Regions from separate parts of the Homo sapiens genome. Here region 1 is linked to region 2. The links come from fine-mapping of genetic effects on gene expression. A gene starts in region 2. The other region holds a variant in brackets. All regions are shown on one strand. Distances are from middle to middle. Region 1 overlaps ITCH (itchy E3 ubiquitin protein ligase). Region 2 holds the start of UQCC1 (ubiquinol-cytochrome c reductase complex assembly factor 1).

Evidence for each region. PIP is the estimated chance that this variant, and not a neighbour inherited with it, causes the effect. A credible set is the group of variants that fine-mapping cannot tell apart.
Region 1: its variant is the best candidate, but not a certain one, in a credible set for the expression of UQCC1 in whole blood (TwinsUK, PIP 0.73).

Annotation. Positions count from the first base shown.
Region 1 is chr20:34,501,617-34,506,996 of GRCh38, forward strand. It overlaps ITCH (itchy E3 ubiquitin protein ligase), which reads left to right. Exons shown (of 25, transcript NM_031483.7): 24 at 2,715-2,787. Among named protein-coding and RNA genes, the nearest start is that of DYNLRB1, 12 kb to the right of the region's middle. The variant T/G (reference allele first, on the strand shown) is at 2,264.
Region 2 is chr20:35,409,843-35,415,222 of GRCh38, forward strand. It overlaps UQCC1 (ubiquinol-cytochrome c reductase complex assembly factor 1), which reads right to left and starts at 2,131. Exons shown (of 10, transcript NM_018244.5): 1 at 2,098-2,131. The coding sequence starts at 2,121. RefSeq lists enhancers at 1,463-2,286, 1,877-1,976, 2,037-2,186, 2,287-3,109, 2,317-2,366.

The DNA of each region.
Region 1 (5,380 bases), 910 kb before region 2:
AATACAAAATTAGCCAGGCGTGGTGGCACATGCCTGTAATCCCAGCTACTCAGGAGGCTGAGGCAGGAGAATCGCTTGAACCTGGGAGGCAGAGGTTGCAGTGAGCCAAGATCGTACCATTGCACTCCAGCCTGGGCAACAAGAGCGAAACTCCATCTCTCAAAAAAAAAAAAAAAAAGACAAGTAGTACTGGAAAATAAAAGAACAGATGAGAAAGATAAATAATAGACTTAAGTATATGTGATAACAAAAGGAGGGAAGTAACCTAAATAAAGTATGAATAATACACCTGCAAAAATAAATTATAGATGGTCAAGGTGGAGAAAAATGAGGTAGATCTTAAAAGCATAGTATCAGAATATATCTCCTGTCATGAAATTCTACTATAGGCCAAGGCTCTAACATGTAAAAAAGCCTCGGAGACCATAACATTTGAAAGGTGGCTGAAAATAGGAACATAGGTACAAAAGTCTACACAGAAGTTGTATGGTTTAGGGACAGTGTCAGAGTTTTTAATATTTGATTTTAAATCTATTAAAAGCAATTCAGAATCCTTTCTGTTACATACTAATGTGCATTATTAAATGAAACTCCTTTCCATCTATGTAGTTAAATATGCTGCTAGGTATGGTGGGCACACATCTGTAGTCCCAGTTATTTGGAGGCTGAGGCAGGAGAATTGCTGGAGCCCAAGATTTCAAGCCTGTAGTGCACTATAACTGCTTCTGTGAACAGCCACTGCACTTAAGCATGGGCAACATAGTGATACCCTGTGTCTTAAAAAAAAAAAAAATTTATAAAAAATGAAATGTGACCAGGTACAGTGACTCACACCTGTAATCCCAGCACTTTGGGAGGCCGAGACGGTTGGGTCACTTGAGGTCAGGAGTTCAAGACCAGCCTGGCCAACATAGTGAAACCCCATCTCTACTAAAAATACAAAATTAGCCGGGTGTGGTAGTGGGCACCTGTAATCCCAGCTACTCGGGAGGCTGAGGCAGGAGAATCACTTGAACCTGGGAGGCGGAGGTTGTGGTGAGCCAAGATTGCTCCACTGCACTCCAGCCTGGGAGACTCCGCCTCAAAAAAAAAAAGAAAATGCTATAAAATATTGAGTAGAGGGTGGACATGATGGCTCATGCCTGTAATCCCAACACTTTGGGAGGCCAAGGTGGGTTGATCACTTGAGGCCAGGAGTTCAAGACCAGCCTGGCCAACATGGTAAAACCCCATCTTTACTAAAAATACAAAAATTAGTTGGGTGTGGTGGTGCACATCTGTAATCACAGCTACTCTAAGGCATGAGAATTGCTTGAACCCAGGAGGCGGAGGTTGCATTGAGCCAAGATTGTGCCACTGCCATCCAGCCAGGGTGACAGAGTGAGACTCTGTCTCAAAAAATATATATATTGAGTAGAGAGAACATGCAGAGTGAGTTAATTTTAATTTATGTGTTGAACACCACAGAATAATTTTAACTGTGTTTTTTTATAACGTTTCCTATATTACTGGACTTTTTACATAACTACTTGTGAAAACAATTCAGTGTTATTAAATACAAAAGCACTAACAATTTATATTGGGTATACTTAGTATACAGGGTTTAGTCAGGTGGGACATGAGAAAGTTCTTTGTGTCTGACAGTGTCACACATTACAGAACAGTTAGCGTTCCTGCCCCCTTCTAATTAAAATATCTAGTAGCATTACCAGTCATTGAGACCAACAATAAATGCTTCCTAGGGAAAAGTAATGATCTTTTAAAAAACTGGTGTTTTTATGATCACTTTTCACAGCTATCTCCAGCAGCAGGTAAATGAGGGGCAAGTATTTTATGTTTATACTTGTATCTGTTTTTGTAAGGGTATGCCCTACAGGACCTGTAAGTTCCAGCATTAATAATATGGAATTCACTAGGATATTTACATTTCACAAAGTTTTATTAATTCTGTATTTAAATCAAGTTTTATTGTAGTTTCGTTATTGTCTTTCAAACTACTAAAATTAAGCTTTTTGTGTGTTCTTGTGTAAGCTTTTATTAATCATAACAATGTGTTATTCCGGCTAAAGAATGCTAGATGAAACTGCATTTTCTCCTTTGGGACTTATATTAACAAACTATAGTCTTCAAACTTTTACACTTACCAGAATCACCCGGAAGCTTGTTAAAGCACATATTGCTGAGCCTGACCCCTAGAGTTTCTTTTTTGTTTGTTGGTTGCTTTTGGGTTTTTTGGGTTTTTTTTTTTTTTTGGTTTTTTTTT[T/G]TTTGGTTTTTTTTTTTTTTGAGATAGGGTCTCGTTCTGTCACCCGGGCGAGAGTGTAGTGGCGCAATCTTGAGTCACTGCAACTTTGCTGCACAGATTCAAGCAATTCTCCTGCCTCAGTCTCCTGAGTAGCTGGGATTACAGGCATACGCCACCACACTTGGCTAGTTTTTGTATTTTTAGTAGAGATCAAGATTCACCATATTGGCCAGGCTGATCTTGAACTCCTGACCTCAAGTGAGCTGCCCACCTTTGCCTCTCAAAGTACTGGGATAACAGACATGAGCCACCACACCTAACCCAGAGTTTCTGAATTAGTAAGATGATGTGTGGGGCCTGAGGATTTATGGTTCTAACAAGTTCCCTCATGATGCTGATGCTTGTTGGATTGGGGAACACAGTTTGAGATCCACTATACTAACAAACTGTTTATGATTTCATTATGTTTTAGGGAGCAATGGACCACAGAAATTCTGCATTGAAAAAGTTGGGAAAGAAAATTGGCTACCCAGAAGTCATACCTGGTAAGTACAATCAGAATGGATAGAGAAAACAGCTTTTGTCCAGTTATCTGTAGCTATTTAAAGCCAGCTAGAAATTAAAAATGATATTTAGTAGATTTACAGAATAGCACAGCCATCATAGCAATCCAGTTTAAGAGCATTTTGTTCACCCCTGTATGATTCCTTACAACTATTTGCAATCAATTCCTTTTTTCACATCTGAATTTTTTTTCTAATGTGGGATTTAGAGTTATTTTAACTTTTCTCTGAGGGCAGCAAAAGAAAGTTAGGAGACCTACTTTCTAACATCATGACCACAAATATTCTCATTTGAAATCTAATTACATTTCTAAAAATGTAGAAAACTAAATCTAATCCTAATCTGACAGCAAATATATTAATATTTTGGAATTCAACCTAATGTCAACAATATTTGAACCTTATTTTGTGGGATATATTTTAGTGGTCACATATGGTCCTTCCTGGATATCTGACCTCTTTACTGTTTTACTAATGTCTATTCCTTTTTGTTTTTATACATAATGTTTTGTACATGCATGTAGTGTTTAAGTAACAATTTTATTGATATATAATTTACAGATTATAAAACTCACCTTCTTAAATTATGCAGTTCGGTTCAGTGGGGTTTTTTTGTTTGTTTGTTTGTTTGTTTGTTTTTGAGACAGGGTCTCACTTTGTAGACCAGGCTGGAGTGCAGTGGTTTGATCTCAGCTCACTGCAACCTCCGCCTCCCAGGTTCAAGCAATTCTCTTGCCTCAGCCTCCCAAGCAGCTGGGATTACAGGCGCCCGTGACCACGCCCAGCTAATTTTTGTATTTTTAGTACAGATGGGGTTTCGCCATGTTGGTCAGGCCGGTCTCAAACTCCTGATCTCAGGTGATCCACCCACCTCGGCCTCCCAAAGTGTTGGGATTACAGGTGTGAGCTGCCGCATCTGGCCTGTTCAGTGATTTTAGCATATTTATGAGGTTATGTAAGCATCATTACTGTCTAATTCCAGAATTTTTTCACCCTCCCAAAAATCCATGTACCCATTAGCAGTCACTCCCTTTTTACCCCGTGTAGCCCTTGGTAACCACTAATCTACTTTCTGTCTCTATGAATTTTCCTGTTCTGGACATTTCATATAAAATGAATCATACGATAAATATATAACTTTTTTTTTTTTGGAGACAGTCTCTCTCTGTCACCCAGGCTGGAGTGCAGTGGCGTGATCTCAGCTCATTGCAACCTCTGCCTCCTGGGTTCAAGTGATTCTCCTGCCTCAGCCTCCCGAGTAGCTGGGACTATAGGCAGCATGCACCACCACGCATGGCTAATTTTTGTATTTTTAGTAGAGACGGGGTTTCACCATGTTCGCCAGGCTGTTCTTGAACTCCTGACCTCGTGATCCACCCACTTTGGCCTCCCAAAGTCCTGGGATTACAGGCGTGAGCCACTGCCCCCAGCCAAAATATACAACCTTTTGTGTGTAGCTTCTTTTACTTAGCATGTTTTCAAGGTTCATCCATGGTCTAGCATATACAGTATTTCATTCCTTTTTAAAATTAATTGTTGGGTTTAATATACATAACATAGAATTTACCATTTTTAAGTGTGTACAGTTCAGTGGCATTAAGTGCATTCATATCATTATGCAGTCATCACCATCACCTATCTCCAAAAATTGTTTCTTTTGTTGAGACATGTCTCAGTCTGTCACCCAGGCTGGAGTGCTGTAGCTCAATCTCCACTCATGCACCCTCCACCTCCCGGGCTCAAACTGTCCTCCTACCTTAGCCTCCCAAGTAGCTGGGACGACAGGCATGTGCTACCACACCTGGCCAATTTCTAAACTTTTTGTAGAGACAGAGTCTTACTTTGTTGCTCAGGCTGGTCTCGACCTCTTGAGCTCAAGCAATACTCCTGCTTTGACCTCCCAAAGTGCTGGAATTACAGGCCATCATGCCAGACCTAAAACATTTTTCATCTTGTAAAATTGAAATGGTACCCATTAAAGCAGGGGTCCCCAACTCCTGGTCCCCAGCCTGTTAGGAACTGGGCTGCACAGCAGGAGGTAAGTGGAGGGTGAATGAGCATTACCTGCTGAGCTCCACCACTTGTCAGATCAGCAGAGGCATTAGATTCTCATAGGAGCAATAACTATTGTGAACTGTGCATGTGAGGGATCTAGATTGTGCATTCCTTACGAGAATCTAACCTGAGGTGGAACAGTTTCATCCTGAAACCATCCCCCTCTCCACTCCTGTCCATGGAAAAATTGTCTTCCACAAAACCATTGCCTGGTGCCAAAAAGGCTGGAGACTGCTGCTTTAAACAATGACTCCCCATGACTCCCTTTCCCCAGGTCCTGGCAAACATCATTCTACTACTGTTTCTATGATTCTTTAGTACTTCGTAAGTGTAGAATCGTACCTTATTTGTCCTTTCCTGGCTGGCTTATTTCACTTAGAATAATATCTTTAATTTTCATCCATGTTGTAGCATGTGTCAGCATTTCCTCCTTTTTAATGCTGAATAATATTTGATAGTCTGGATATACTACATTTTGTTTATACATTCATCTGTCCATGGACACTTAGATTATTTCCAC
Region 2 (5,380 bases):
TCACCCAGGCTGGACTGCAGTGGCACAATCTCAGCTCACTGCAACCTCCGCCTCCTGGGTTGAAGCAATTCTCGTGTCTCAGCCTCACGAGTAGCTGGGATTACAGGCGCCCACCACCAGGCCTGGCTAATTTTTGTATTTTTAGTAGAGACAGGGTTTCACCACGTTGGCCAGGCTGGTCTTGAACTCCTGGCCTCAAGTGATCCACCTACCTCAGCCTCCCAATGTGCTGGGATTACAGGTGTGAGCCACGGCACCTGGCCAGGAATACCTCTCTGTGGTTCAGTTTTCTTATCTGTAAAATAGAGGAAATAACACGCCCTCCTTTCCAAAGGGATGTTATAAGGATTAGGTAAGTATTTTAAAGTGCTTAGCACGTAGTAAGTGCCCTATAAAATGATAGTTGTCAGGCCAGGCTCGGTGGCTCATGCCTGTTATCCCAGCACTTTGGGAGGCCGCAGGAGGCGGATCATGAGGTCAGGAGTTCGAGACCAGTCTGGCCAACATGGTGAAACTCCATCTCTACTAAAAATACAAAAGTTAGCCAGGTGTGGTGGCAGGCGCCTGTAATCCCAGCTACTTGGGAGGCTGAAGCAGGAGAACTGCTTGAACCCAGGAGGCAGAGGTTGCAGTGAGCCGAGATCACACCGCTGAACTCCACCCTGGGTGACAGAGCGAGACTCCATCTCAAAAAAAAAAAAAATACAAAAATTAGTCAGGTGTGGTGTGGTGCATGCCTGTCATCCCAGCTACTCGGGAGGCTGGCACAGGAGAATTGCTTGAACCCGGGAGCAGAAGTTGCAGTGAGCCCGAGATGGCACCACTGCACTCCAGCTTCGGCGACAGAGCAAGACTCTGCCTCAAAAAAAAAAAAAAAAAAAACAAAACCCTAAAGGGTGGCAGGGGAAGGATTAAAAAAAAAAAAAAAAAAAAAACCACTAAATTCAGAACATTCTAATTGCCATTTCCCCAGCAGTCCTCATTTCTGAATCAATTTCTGGCCTGAAATCAAACAATCACTTCACCAGGTGAATCTTTCTGGCAGTTACAGGGGCTACTCTACAAATAAATATTTACTGAACAGCAGTCGAGGGTACCTCACTCTGCTAGGCTGGCAAGGAATACAAGAAGTAAAACTGTCGTCCTTGTAAGACATATATAAAAAGATCAAAAACACAAATGTAAAATAACAATTCAGAAGTTACCTAGACACAGGAATAGACCATGTCTACTATGAAAAACAGTGTCTTTGACCCAGTTTTTGAAGACTCGCTAAAACTATACACTCTCCCATCCCTCCATGATTAAAAACTAAGCTCTGTATCCTAACGTTTTTTCTGCTGCCACTTTCTTTTCTCCTTTAATTGCTAGAGAAAAGAGTATGCTAGAAGGGTCAGGACTAAATCTCAAGAGGTGCAGTAGTTTCACACACGGGTGCTAAAGAGTCTGGTAGTCTTTCCTTACTTCATTCATTTATTCAACAAGTAATCATTTAACACCTATGATGTGCCAGACACCATGCTAGGCAAAGTGAAAACGACGGAGACAGACATGACTCCAATTCTCACGCAGCTTTCAATCTAATAATCTATATTCCACTTAACTGTACAGTTAAGAACTGACTTATTACCTATGAAAGAAACCCTGAGAATCTCAGAATCTAAAGGGACTGCAGGAGATAAATGTCCTCGTTTTTCACATAGGGTCAATGAGGCCCAAAAGTGACTTGCTTAAAGTCACTATGCATCAGTGACAGTCAGGGACTAGAACCCAGGCCTCCTGAAACTCCAATCAGTGTCCTACATGCTCCTCTCCCTGAGGGGAAGCAGGTACATGGGGGAGGGAAGGAAAAGTAAACCCCATCAAATAAAGGCCAGATGTCAGTCTTCCCCTTCTCGAAAGATGGGGGAGCTAAGGTCAAAACGGGGTAGGAAGAGGTCGGAAGCTGCCTCAGTTTCCCCACGGAAAAGCGGCCACTCAGCCTAGCTATAACACAGGCTTCCCTCCTGCGATTCCTTCCAATTCCTCCCGCCCTGCCTTGTCGAACTCCAACCCGGGACCCAGAGAGCTACCGTAGAAAATTACTCCTTCACTCACAAGGACTCGCACCAGCAACGCCATGTTCCTCAATAACCATTTCCGGGTGAAGAGTGAGTTTCCGGTGTCCCCTTTTCTACGTCCTCCTTTTGCCGGCGAAAGACTGGCAAGGGGGGCGCAGGCGCAAAGAGGTCGCTACGCGCACGCGCTGTTGTTTTCTCGGCTGTGCACCAGGCTGTCGTGCCCGGGCACGCTCTCCCTGCTGTCTCCCCCACTACACGTAACAGTGGTTCAAATCCTTCCCCCACGCCTGTCTCCTTGACCCCAGACCTCGGGGCTTCTCATATCCCTCTCTTTATTCCCCACCTAACCCAGCCTCACTCCTCAGCCCCTCCTTCCCAAACTCCACCCCAACACTTTTCAATGGAGGTTGAAAAGAACAGGACTTTAGGAAATCCCAATCTTTAGAAAGAGCCAGAAGACCGGGCGCGGTGGCTCACGCCTGTAATCCCAGCACTTTGGGAGGCCGAGGCGGGCGGATCACCTGAGATCAGGAGTTCGAGACTAGCCTGGCCAACATGGCAAAACCCCGTCCCTAACTAAAAATACAAAGAAAGTAGCCGGGCATGTTGGTGTGTGCCTGTAATCCCAGCTACTCTGAAGGCAGAGGTTGCAGTGAGCCGAGATCGCGCCACTGCACTCCAGCCTGGGCGACAGAGCAGGACTGGACTCTGTCTCAAAAAAAAAAAAAAAAAAAAAAAAAAAAAAGCCAGAGAAGGAGGCTAAGATAAAAGAATACGGGGGATACCAGACTCCTGAAAGTCAAGGCAAGAAGGCGGTCATGTGCCGATCTGAAGCCTGGTAGAGGAAGAAACTTTTGGGATTTGTGGTTGGTTGGTTGTTTAAGGGAAACATCTTTGCATATTGATAGGAAAAGATTAGTGAAGAGTATACAGGGCCGTGCCCGGTGGCTCATGCCTGTAATCCCAACACTTTGGGAGGCCGAGGCAGGTGGATTGCCTGAGGTCAGGAGTTCAAGACCAGCCTGACCAATATGGTGAAACCCCGTCTCTACTGAAAATACGAAAAAAATTAGCCGGGCATGGTGGCGTGTGCCTGTAATCCCAGCTACTTGGGAGGCTGAGGCAGGGAATCGCTTGAACCCGGGAGGCAGAGGTTGCAGTGAGCTGAGACTGGGGCACTGAACTCCAGCCTGGGTGACAAAGCGAGACTCCGTCTCAAAAAAAAAAAAAAAAAAAGAGTATACAGGAGAATCAATCAAAGAGGCAAGGAGCTTCTTGAGGAAAGTGGCAGAGAACGGCCTTGGTAGAAGACTCCTCTTCCATTACATCCCAAGAGAAGAGAAGACAAAGTACTGGTGCTTTGGGGGTTGAGGGAGCAGAGGGGCAGGATGTTGAAGGACTTCTTTCATTTCATTCAGTCAACAAAGACCTATTGAGTCTTCCCTATGTGCTGAACACAAGACATACTGGCTTCATGGAGTTCTTAGACTGGTGGGGGAGGCATAGGAACCCAGTGAAAAAAATTAAAACTGGGGAGCTACTTTGGTTAGGTTGGTAAGGCCTCTCCAAGAAAGTGACATGTAAGATGAAATCTAAAGGAAGAAGAGGAGCTAGTCATGGGAAATAACTTCACTCGACTATTTTTTTAATTAAATTTATTGATTTTTATTAATTGACAAAAAATATATATTGTGTACAACAGGATGTTTTCTTTTTTCTTTTTTTTTTTTTTTTTGAGACAGAGTTTCACTCTTGTCGCCCAGGCTGGAGTGCAGTGGCTCAATCTCGGCTCACTGCAACCTCCACCTCCCAAGTCAAGCGATTCTCCTGCCTCAGACTCCCAAGTAGCTGGGATTACAGATGCGCACCACCACGCCTGGCTAATTTTTGTGTTTTCAGTAGAGACGGGGTTTTGCCATTTCGGCTAGGACGGTCTCAAACTCCTAACCTCAGGTGATCCACCCACATCGGCCTCCGAAAGTGCTGGGATTACAAGAGTGAGCCACCGTGCCCCCGGCCAGGATGTTTTAAAATATGTATACATTGTGAAATGGCTAAGTCAAGCTAATTAATATATGCATTACCTCATATTTTTGTGCTGGAAATGTTTAAAATATGTTCTTTAAGCAATTTTCAAGAATACAATACATATTCATAGTGGGTATAGTCACCATGTTATACAATAGATCTTTTCTTTTTTTTTTTGAGACGGAGTTTCACTCTTGTTGCCCAGGCTGGAGCGCAATGGCGTGATCTTGGCTCACTGCAACCTCTGCCTCCCGGGTTCAAGTGATTCTCCTGCCTCAGCCTCCTGAGTAGCTGGGATTACAGGCATGCGCCACCACGCCCAGCTAATATTATATTTTAGTAGAGACGGGGTTTCTCCATGTTGGTCAGGCTGGTCTCGAACTCCCGACCTCAGGTGATCCGCCTGCCTTGGCCTCCCAAAGTGGCCTCCTGAACTTATCTCTCTTAACTGAAATTTTGTATCCTTTGACAAACATCTCCTCAGCCTCTAGTAACCACCATTCTACTCTCTACTTCTGTGTGTTCAACTTATATTCCACATATGAGAGAAATCAAGCAGTGTTTGTCTTTCTGTGCCTCATTTATTTCTCTTAACATAACATCCTCCCAGTTCATCCATGTTGTCATAGATATGAGCATTTCCTTCTTTTTTTTTTCCTTGAGACAGAGTCTTGCTCTTGTTGCCCAGGCTGGAGTGCAGTGGCACAATCTTGGCTCACTGCAACCTCTCCCTCCCGGGTTCAAGCAATTCTCCTGCCTCAGCCTCCCAAGTAGCCTGGACTACAGGCATGTGCCACCACACCCAGCTAATTTTTATTTTTAGTAGAGATGGGGTTTCTCCATGTTGGTCAGGCTGGTCTTGAGCTCCCGACCTCAGGTGATCTGCCCACCTTGGCTTCCCAAAGTGTTGGGATTACAGGTGTGAGCCACCGCACCTGGCCAGCATTTCCTTCTTCTTTTAGGCTGAATAGCATTCCATTATATATATAAATCACTTTTTTTTTTTTTTGAGACAGAGTCTTGCTCTGCCGCCCAGGGTGGAGTGCAGTGACACAATCCCAGCTCACTGCAGCCTGTACCTCCTGGGTTCAAGCAATTCTTGTGCCTCAGTCTCCCAAGTAGCTGGGACTACAGGCACGTGCCACCATGTCCGGCTAATTTTTGTATTTTTAGTAGAGACAGGGTTTCACCATGCTGGCCAGGCTGGTCTCGAACTCCTGGCCTCAAGTCATCTGCCCACCTCTGCCTCCCAAAGTACTGGGATTACAGGCATGAGTCACTGTACCTGGTCA